Linked DNA regions of Homo sapiens: region 1 is linked to region 2. Evidence: fine-mapped expression QTL. A gene starts in region 2. The other region holds a variant in brackets. All regions are shown on one strand. Distances are from middle to middle.

What was found. PIP is the estimated chance that this variant, and not a neighbour inherited with it, causes the effect.
Region 1: its variant is the best candidate, but not a certain one, in a credible set for the expression of GPR39 in subcutaneous fat (FUSION, PIP 0.62).

What each region holds. Positions count from the first base shown.
Region 1 is chr2:132,572,463-132,577,962 of GRCh38, forward strand. All of the region lies in intron 1 of GPR39 (G protein-coupled receptor 39), which reads left to right. Among named protein-coding and RNA genes, the nearest start is that of LYPD1, 95 kb to the right of the region's middle. The variant CTTTCTT/C (reference allele first, on the strand shown) is at 2,626.
Region 2 is chr2:132,414,081-132,419,080 of GRCh38, forward strand. It overlaps GPR39 (G protein-coupled receptor 39), which reads left to right and starts at 2,725. Exons shown (of 2, transcript NM_001508.3): 1 at 2,725-3,818. The coding sequence starts at 2,963. LOC124905948 reads right to left here and starts at 2,964. Exons shown (of 4, transcript XM_047446885.1): 1 at 2,826-2,964; 2 at 1,340-2,456; 3 at 149-339. The coding sequence starts at 2,964. The coding sequence ends at 1,735. RefSeq lists an enhancer at 2,356-2,650 and a silencer at 2,356-2,650.

The DNA of each region.
Region 1 (5,500 bases), 160 kb after region 2:
CCACAGTCTCCCCACAGGTTAGTTGTTTCTCCTGAGAGCTTTTATTAGTCAGAACTCATAGGGTTAGAAGAGATTAAAAAAAAAAAAAAAACCTCATTCTAAACTAGATCTTAAAAGAGAGGAGGCATTTGTTGAATCATGAAACCAAAACTTATAGGGGTTCACATATGGCTGAATCCAGGTGATCCCAGATATCCATAGGAGTCCGCTATGCTCCATCAGGCACCATTCTCTCGGGCACTTTCCCCCAAGTGGTAGCAACAAGTTTACACTCTGTCAGATAGCCACACTGCCTAAGTCCTAGGGAAGAAATAATAGAATTTCTTCTCCATAGTCCTAGGGAAGAAATAATAGAATTGATTGTGGTTTGTCTTTCTTGGACCATTTTATCCAACCCTGAATCATTTCAGCCAAGGAAATGAGATACTGTTATGGCCAGGACTGGTCACATGCCCATCTGTGGAGGTAGAGTCAGGAAGAGTGGGTTCCCCAAGTGGAGGATGTGGGTTTTATTACCAGAAGAAAGAATGCTGACCAGGCACACATGGGTGCCCATTGTGGAAGTGAAATGGTGGCCCTTGCTCCCAATGGCCATGGGCTGTATGTCCCATCATTGCTGCCCCTACTGCCCCATGGGTAAGGCTGATGCTGAAACTCTTGTCCTTACTTACCCTTCAGAGATGCTCAGAGGCAGGTCTGAAATTTCCAGATGTTTCCACAAGTTTCCAACAGACTATGTTGGGAAATCTGGAAAATACTGTTTTCAAAGATTTGGAAGACCTTTAGAAGCCTCCATTTTCCCCTCCTTCCTCTATTTTTCCCTCTGTGGCAATAGCTGACCAAGGAAGCTTTGGAGATCCCCCAATTCACTGCTTGTTTCTCATTTTGTTGACCAACACCTTGGATTCCCAAATAAGAAAAGCAATCAGGAAGGTTTCAGAGTGATGTGGAAAGAGGGGCAAGGAGAGGGCCAGGCATTTTCATGCATAGCATTTGCACAAGGACAGAGTGCCAATCTCCCAGCAAAGTTGGCAGACAGGGCCTCCAGCAGTTAGAGTGACAAAAAGGTAATCAGAACCACTTGCCACTTTCCATTGAGACAGACATGGGAGCCAAAGTGGGAACAATTCCTGGATGATAAATTGTTTCTTGCTTTTCCTTTGAACTTCAAGATCCATCCCCCTGGGTCCCTCCCATCTGATGGATTGACTGACAAGTTCAATGGGCAAGGAGAGGATTCCATACCCAAGAATCTGAGCTGTGTTAAGGCAAGTCTCTGAAGCTAATTGAATGCGAATGTCAGCTGCCACCGATAGGGGTAATAGGAAGAAAAGAATTACCTTCATCAGGGGAACTTTTAGGGGCTGAGAGAAAAACCAAGCAGAATAAGCAAAGCCTCTTGAACTTCAATGTGACATTTTTGCAGCCCCAGCAAAAGTCAGTTAAACGCTAGATTTTAACTCTTCCTTGAAGAATGTATTGCTTTTCTGCAATCAAGAAATTAAAGCTAGAGCACTATAAATTTTTAATTGACATAACTTTGTATATTCAGCTTCACATGCTGATATTTTTATCATATCATGAACATTGTAAACCAATGCCATTTTTCAAAATCATCATAAATGTCTGTATAATTCAGGGAAAGGATATACCATGCTGTATTTAAACATTTCTCACTCTTTGGTCATTTTGGATGTTTCCAATGTCTTGTCATTGTAAATTGTTCCACCTCACATTTCTGAGGCAGTGTTGAATGAATGTTTATTCATTTTTGCCAGCATTGAATATTATTTTTAAAATCTATTGCCAATTTGGTAGGTAAATAGCTTCTCTCTAATTCACATATCTTTGACTACTCATAAGGATAAGTATTACTTTGCATGTTTATTAGTCATTTGTATTTCAACTTCTAAAAATTCTCTTTATGCTCTTCACACATTTTTCTTCATAGTTCACAGGAACTCTTTATATGTTAAGTATATTACAGGCCAGACATGGTGGCTCATGCCTGTAATCCCAGCACTTTGGGAGGCTGAGGCAGGCAGATCTCTTGACCCCAGGATTTCAAGAGAGAGCAGCCTGGCCAACATGACAAAATCCTGTCTCTACTAAAAATACAAAAATTAGCTGGACATGATGGTGTGTACCTGTAATCCCAGCTACTCAGGTGGCCAAGGCACGAGAATTGCTTTAACCAAGGAGGTGGAGGTTGCAGCGAGCCAAGATCTTGCCACTGCACTCTAGTCTGGGTGACAGAGTGAGACTTTGTCGCTAAATGAATAAATGTTACAATTTATTCTATTAGAGTTACTGTTAACATCTTGTTATTTGTATTTAAAACTTTTGTAAAAGATACAACTTAGTATTTTTCTAATATTATTAATGTATTTTTTGAATAGTAATACATTTGCTTGGTTTAAGATTAAACAGGCACTAAGGAGAGCAAAGTGTTTCCTCTCCAGTCTTGCCCTTTTGTGACTGAGGTTTCCTCCTGAAAGCACCCATTATTACCAATTTTTGTGTATATAGTCAGAACTTTCTTCTGCATATTCTGTATCTACAAATTTCTACATTTATTTTTTTCATATTCCCTTTTTATACAAATATAATATTTGTAATCTTCAA[CTTTCTT/C]TTTCTAACATTTTGGAGTTCATTTTATATCAGTACATAAAAGCTTTCTTACTCTTTTTATGATGCCATGGTATTCTATTGTATGGTTTATTGTAGTTTTATGACATATAAAAAAGTTAAGGACTTTACAGTCAGATCTATCTTTCCATTTTTAATTTAATCCATTGATTTTATGCTTAAAATATCTTTCACTGTGCAGTCACTTAAATACTCATCTGTGTTTTCTTTTGTGTTTAAACTTTGTATTTTAAGATAAAGGTAAATTCATCTGCAATTATAAGAAATAAGAGATCCCTCACACCTTCTACCTAGTTTCTCTCAATGTCTTGGAAAACTATACTAAAATATTACAGCCAGAATATTGCTATTGATAGTTAAATTGATCCTCCTGCCTCAGCCTCCTGATGTGTTTACTTTTTAAAGCAACTGTGAAACTGTTTTCCAGAGTGGTTGTACCATATCGCATTCCCACTAGCAATGTATGAGGGACACAGTTTTCTGCAGCCTTGTCAGCATCTGGTGTTGTCACTATTTTTTGCTTTAGACATTCTGATACGTGTATACTGATACTGCACTGTGGTTCCAATTTGCACTTCCCTAAGGGCTAATGATATTGAATGTCCTGCATGTGCTTACTTACCATCTACAATTCCTCTTTAGTGAACTGTCTCTTCACATCTGCTGTTGTCTAAATGTTTGTCCTCCTAAAATTGATATGATGTAATCCTGACCCCCAAGGTGATGGCATAAGGAGATGGAGCTTTGAGTGGTGGTTGGGTAATGAGGGTAGAAGCCTCATGAATGGTATTAGTGCCATTGTAAAGGAGACCCCAGAGGACTCCTTCTAACATGTGAGGAAACCGCCAGAAGACGGCACTCTGTGAACCAGGAAGTGGGCCCTCACTAGACACCAAATCTCTTGGCACCTTGATCTTGGACTTCCTAGTCTCCAGAACCTTAAGAAATAAATTTCTGTTGTTTATAAACCACCCAACCGATGGCATTTTTAACAGCGGTCTGAACAGACAATGACTGTCTTTTGCCCATTTTCTAATTGAATTATTTCTTTTTTTACTGTTGAATTTTGAGAGTTGTTTATATATTCTAGGTGTTAGTCCTTTGTTGGATATGTGGTCTGAAAATATTTTCTCTCAGTTGGTTGCTTATCTTTTTCTCCTCTTAACAGGGTCTATCACAGAGCAAAAGTTTTAAATTTTGACAAAGTGCGGTTTATCAGTTCTTTTTTGGATTGTGCTTTTGATATCAAGGCTAAGCCTAGCCAGGTGTGATGGCTCACACCTGTAATTACAGCACTTGAGGAGTCTGAGGCAGGCAGATCACTTGAGCCCAGGAATTCGAGACCAGCCTGGCCAACATGGCAAAACCCCATCTCTACTAAAAATATAAAAATTAGCCAGCCATGGTGGTGTGCACCTGTAATCCCAGCTACTTGGGAGGCTGAGGCATGAGAATTGTTTGATCCCAGGAGGTGGAGGCTGCAGTGAGCCAAGATTGCACCACTGCACTTCAGCCTGGGCAACAGAGCAAGATTCTGTCACCAAAACAAGAAAACTAAACTAAAACTAAGCCTAGCCCTCAGTCCTGAACATTTTTTAAATTTTTTTTCTAAAATTTTACAGAAATTTAGTTTTATATGCAAGTCTGTGATCCATTTTGAGTTAATTTCACATAAGGGTGTGAGATTTAGGCCAAGGTTTTTGTTGTTGTTTTTTGGCCTCCGATGTCCAGTTGCTTCAATACCATTTGTTGAAAAGGCTATCTTTTCTCCACTTAATTGTTTGGCATGCTTATCAAAAATCGGTTGTGCATATTTGTTTGAATTTGTTTTCCTTATTTTGTTTTATTGATCTATATGACTATACCTCTACCAATACCACATTCTTGATTATTTTAGCTATATAAGTCTCAAAATGAGGTAGACAAATTCCTCCCATTTTTTTTTTTCAAAACTGTTTTTGGGGCTGGGCAAGGTGGCTCACACCTGTAATCCCAGCACTTTGGGAGGCTGAGGTGGGGGGTATCACTTGAGCTCAGGAGTTCGAGACCAGCCTGGGCAACACGGTGAAACCCCATCTCTACAAAAAATACAAAAATTAACCAGGTGTCGTGGCACACACCTGTAGGCCCAGCTACTTTGGAGACTGAGGTGGGAGGATTGCTTGAGCCTTGGAGGTGGAGGTTGCAGTGAGCCAAGATTGTGCCATTGCACTCCAGCCTGGGCCCTGTCTCAGAAAAAAAAAAATTATTCTTGATATTCTAGTTCCTTTGCCTTTCAATATAAATATTAGAATAACCTTATCTATATCAACAACAACTCTTATGTGGATTTTGAAAGGAATTGTATTAAATCTGTATATCAATTTGAGGAGAATTGACAGCTGTACTATATTGAGTCTTATAATTTATGAACATGTAAGTCTCTGTTTATTTAGATATTTGATTTCTTTCAACAGCGTTGTATAGTTTTTAGTGTATAAGACATATATGATTTGTTGGATTTATATATAAATATTTTCTTTGAGTGACTGACTGTAAGTGGCATTGTCTTTTAATGTTGGTTTCCATATGTTCATTATGATCATGTAGAAATGCAGTACTTTTTTTGTGTTGACCTTGTATCCTGTAACCTTATTGAACTCACTTATTCTAGATTTTTTTTGGTAAGATTCCTTGGGATTTTCTACATAAACTATCATGCCATCTGCAAATAGGGGCAGTTTTACTTCTTCATTTTCAATCCGTATGCCTTTTATTTCCCTTTTTTGTCTGTTGCCCTGGCTAGACCTATCAGTACTATGTTGAGTAACAGTGGTGACAAAGACATTCTTGCCTTGTTCCCTATTTTAAA
Region 2 (5,000 bases):
TGGGTACATCCTAGTACAGTCCAGTGTTTCTGTGTGTGCCATTCAGGATGAATTTCCTGTGGGATAGCAAACAACCAGGCTCTGCCGTAGAGAAGTCGATTCAGAGTCCTCATCTGCAAGTAGAAAAGCCCCAGGAGTCCATGCTTACCCCCATTACGCTACTCCTGTGAGTGTTGTGGGACAGATGAAAGGTCAGCTAGGTCCTTCAGCTGAATGCAGTGCACTAATGAGGAAACGAGTTAGGAGTTTCTCCACCAGTGCCAACAAGCAGGTCAAGTAGCACACATCGGGGGTGGAGAGGCCGCCCACAAAACACATTATTTAGGGTGCTATGCCAACCTGTCAGAGAGGGAAAAGATACACTTCTTGGCTTTGGAGCTTGTGATTTAACAGAACAAAGAAAGAGAAAACATGAAAGGCACATATGAAGCTAATTTTAAAGATCCAGTGGCCATACAGCATTTTTTTTTTCTCCTAGACAGCATTAAAATCAAATAATCCTTGAGGTCATCAGACAATAGCTCCAGTGCACTGTGCAGAAAGTACAGTCCTGGCCGGGCGCAGTGGCTCACACCTGTAATCCCAGCACTTTGGGAAGCCGAGGTGGGCAGATCACCTGAGGTCAGGAGTTCAAGAGCAGCCTGGCCAACATGGTGAAACCCTGTCTCTACTAAAAATACAAAAAATTAGCCGGGTGTAGTGGCACGCACCTGTAATCCCAGCTACGCAGGAGGCTGAGGCAGGAGAATCACTTGAACCCGGGAGGCAGAGGTTGCCAGTGAGCCGAGATGGCGCCATTGCACTCCAGCCTGGGCAAAAAGAGCAAAACTCCGTCCCCTCCCCCCCCCAAAAAAGTACAGTCCCATGTTTCTATGTGCACCATTCAGGATGAATTTCCTAAGCACCTACTGCATTCCCAGAATTAGGAGTACAAACTCAGGGGTCAGACTGATCTGGATTAATTTCCAAGTCTGTCACTAACCATTTTTTAAAAATCATATATATTTAAGGTGTGCAGCATGATGTTTTGATATACAAAGTGAAATGATTACCACAGTCAAGCAAAGTAAGGTGTCTGTCATCTTCCACAGTGACTTTTTGTGTGTGTTGCACCTAAAATGGACTCTCTCTGCAAATTTTCAATCTACATTGCAACATTATTAACTGTTGTCCTGTGGCTGTATGATAAATCTGTAGACTTATTCATTTTGTCCTTTGACCTACATGTCCCCATTTCCTCTCCCTCCCAGGCCTTGGTAACCACCTTTCTACTCTTTGTTTCTATGTATTTAACTTTATTTTATATTCCACATCTGAGTAAGACCTTGCTCTCACTCACTCTTTTATGGCCTTGGGGAAGCATAGGTCCTCCAGACAGCAGAATTGCTTCATCTTTAAAATGATTGCATCGATGTGGCGATTGGGATAATTCAGAGATGTTTTCAGCACAGAGGGCTTGTGCTAGGCCCCTAGAATGTACAGATAAAGGGGATCCATGTTCTTCCTTTGAGGCAGAGGTTCTGACTTTGACTTTGCCACTCCCTGGCAAGGGGCATTTAGCAATGTCTGGAGACATTTGGCTGTCCCTATGGATGTGTGTATGCAGGTGCTAAACATCCTAGAACGCATAAGGCAGCCTTCCTCCCCCTTCATTGCTCATTCCCTCTGATTGTGGAATTAAAAGACGAAAATGGGTCCATTCGAGGGAAAAGGTCATGATCCTTAATGCTGTTTTTACATGACGGCCTTGTCAGAGCCTTCAGCTCCTCCTGCTGTCTTCGACGTTCTAGGCACAGCTCCCTCCGGAGGGCATGCTTCCCACCTGGGGCTTGCTGGCGGAGTGCCATCCTCATCCATATACATGTCCCCAATTAAAAGACGTCCCGCTGCCGGGAAAGCGGCTGCACCTTGGAGCGAAACTGAAAGAAGAGACCCCGGGGTCTTCGCGTCCCTCCGTGGGAAGGCGAGGCAGGGCCCTGCGCAGAACACCGGCAGGCTCTGGGGAAAGGCAGGGATTCTATAGTGAATCCTGCAAGCCTGCTTGGGGCCGACTTCCTGGAGCAGCGGCTGCAAGCAGCGCAGAGCCCAGCTGTCCTTGGCAAACACCCCACAGAGGAGGCGAGGGCTTGCTGGCTCCTCTGGGACGCCCCGGTCAAGCCACCACCAAACGGGCCGTGACCTCGCCTTCGAAGGGGGCCCCCAGGGCAGCGGTGGACGTGGGGGCAGTGCGGGCGAGAGGAAGTTTGTCTTTCTCCCAGCTCGGGAGGGTCGCCAGCTTCCCCGGGGCTGCACCTCCTTGGGACGCTTGTCGGGTTGGAGCGCCGCAGCTGCCTCTGCGGCTGCCGCCTGGGTGACGGAGGGTGGGGCGGGGGTGGGTCGCTCGTAGCTCGAGAGCCACGATCTGATTTCAGGGACCGTGCCTATGTGCTGAGTCAAACCCCGCCGCTGGGCTGGGTCTGCAGCCGGGCCGCTGAGCACAATCCGCTGTGGTTAATGATTAATCGCTGACCACCCCGCCTCCCGCAGCTCGGGAGAGGGTGCTCTGGGAATGTGGACCGGGGCTCTCAAGTGCCGGCAGCTGGAAAGGAAGAGGAGTGCTGCGAGGCGGAGTGCGCCCTCGGCGAAGAGGGGCAGAGGCGGAGCGCCAGGTGCTGCGGTCTCACTCCCAGCCAGCCAGGAGTTTAGAACGTTCTTCCTCCGCCCTCTCCCCGCCTCGCCCCAGCCACATACACTCCCAAACCTCAACACCCAGGCGCCTCCTGGGCCTCTCCTAGGTTGGGCTGCTCCAGCAAGTTTCCATGAAAGCACCTGAAATACTAAGTTACCTTCGCGAGGAGAACTCGAGTGAGATAAAATCGTGCGCCCACGCAGGTGAGTTTGCAGCCAAGAATTTTGGACGCTGCTGGGAGGAGAAAGGGAAGTTGAGAAAGTCTTTGGACCTGGTAGCCTGGTGCTCTTTCTCATGGCTTCACCCAGCCTCCCGGGCAGTGACTGCTCCCAAATCATTGATCACAGTCATGTCCCCGAGTTTGAGGTGGCCACCTGGATCAAAATCACCCTTATTCTGGTGTACCTGATCATCTTCGTGATGGGCCTTCTGGGGAACAGCGCCACCATTCGGGTCACCCAGGTGCTGCAGAAGAAAGGATACTTGCAGAAGGAGGTGACAGACCACATGGTGAGTTTGGCTTGCTCGGACATCTTGGTGTTCCTCATCGGCATGCCCATGGAGTTCTACAGCATCATCTGGAATCCCCTGACCACGTCCAGCTACACCCTGTCCTGCAAGCTGCACACTTTCCTCTTCGAGGCCTGCAGCTACGCTACGCTGCTGCACGTGCTGACACTCAGCTTTGAGCGCTACATCGCCATCTGTCACCCCTTCAGGTACAAGGCTGTGTCGGGACCTTGCCAGGTGAAGCTGCTGATTGGCTTCGTCTGGGTCACCTCCGCCCTGGTGGCACTGCCCTTGCTGTTTGCCATGGGTACTGAGTACCCCCTGGTGAACGTGCCCAGCCACCGGGGTCTCACTTGCAACCGCTCCAGCACCCGCCACCACGAGCAGCCCGAGACCTCCAATATGTCCATCTGTACCAACCTCTCCAGCCGCTGGACCGTGTTCCAGTCCAGCATCTTCGGCGCCTTCGTGGTCTACCTCGTGGTCCTGCTCTCCGTAGCCTTCATGTGCTGGAACATGATGCAGGTGCTCATGAAAAGCCAGAAGGGCTCGCTGGCCGGGGGCACGCGGCCTCCGCAGCTGAGGAAGTCCGAGAGCGAAGAGAGCAGGACCGCCAGGAGGCAGACCATCATCTTCCTGAGTGAGTCCTAAGTCGGGGGCAACACGTGAGCAGCTTCCCAACCTTCCCCCACGACCCGTGCCACTGCCTGTGGCCCTCTCCAGGGCAAGTCTTGCCCTAGAATTGCACACTTAAGTTTACTAAGGTGGAAGAGTCTTGTAGCAGTATGAGGGCATTGCTCTGGGTCTCTGAATGTTTCTTCTCTGTGTTTCGGGGATTCATGGTAGATTATGGTGAAAAGAGCACGAGACCAGAACCCAGAAGGTTTGGGTATATTCCAGAACATCACTGCTGTGACCTTTGGGAAGTCACAAAAATCTTTGGTAAAATGGGGACAATAATACTAGAGAATATGACGGACAAATTAGGTAATGCAGGACAGGTGAAAGTCCTTTGCAAAAGACCAAGTTCTGCAGAGATACAGGGAACCGTCTTATCTAGCTCTTTTACCCGGGGAAGACTTTCTTGTGCAATTAGATTTTGTTCCCATTTTTCTCCTCCTTTGGAGAAAGCAGGCTGTGAGCGACACACACTCTCGGGCTGCTATTTTATTCCTTGGAGCCTCTTCGACCCAATCTTAAGACATGGGAGCTCTCAGCACTCCCCAGGGCTTGGGTTTCTGCCACTGTGGGTCTGTTCCTTACCAGACCAGAGCAACCTGGCAGGACGGCCTGTTTATCTGATCCAGAAAATCTGGCTTCACCGATTCCTAGGATTTGAATAATCACCTCACAGACCCAATTCTTATGCTTGTTTTCCAAACTTTTGTTGTGATACAAGTATTTAAAGTTGAGGCCTCGTCTATTTAAAAAGAGCCCACAGGTCTGTTGACCCCAGAGCCTTCAGAAGAGGGACCTAGTGGCTGGGAGACAAGGCTTTAATGGAGACACATGAAATGTGTGTGAACAAAGGGTTTTAAAATATATTTTTTTAGCAGAAACAATAAAAAGGATGTATTGTGCGTGTGTGAATCAAAAAGGAATAGATATAACAAACATTTCCCTTCTTCCCTCTCCCCTGTGGCATCAGGAAAAGGAATAAATCATGGTGCTGTTTGTTTTGGTGTGGGCAACTGGGCAGCAGGTTCCAGGGACAGGAGGTAGACATGAGAGAGAGTTGGAAGGCACTTGGAGAATGATGGAAAGACCTGGGTCTTGCCTCAGACCAGCCCCTGGCTTCCAGTGTGTCATTAATTGTTAAAAG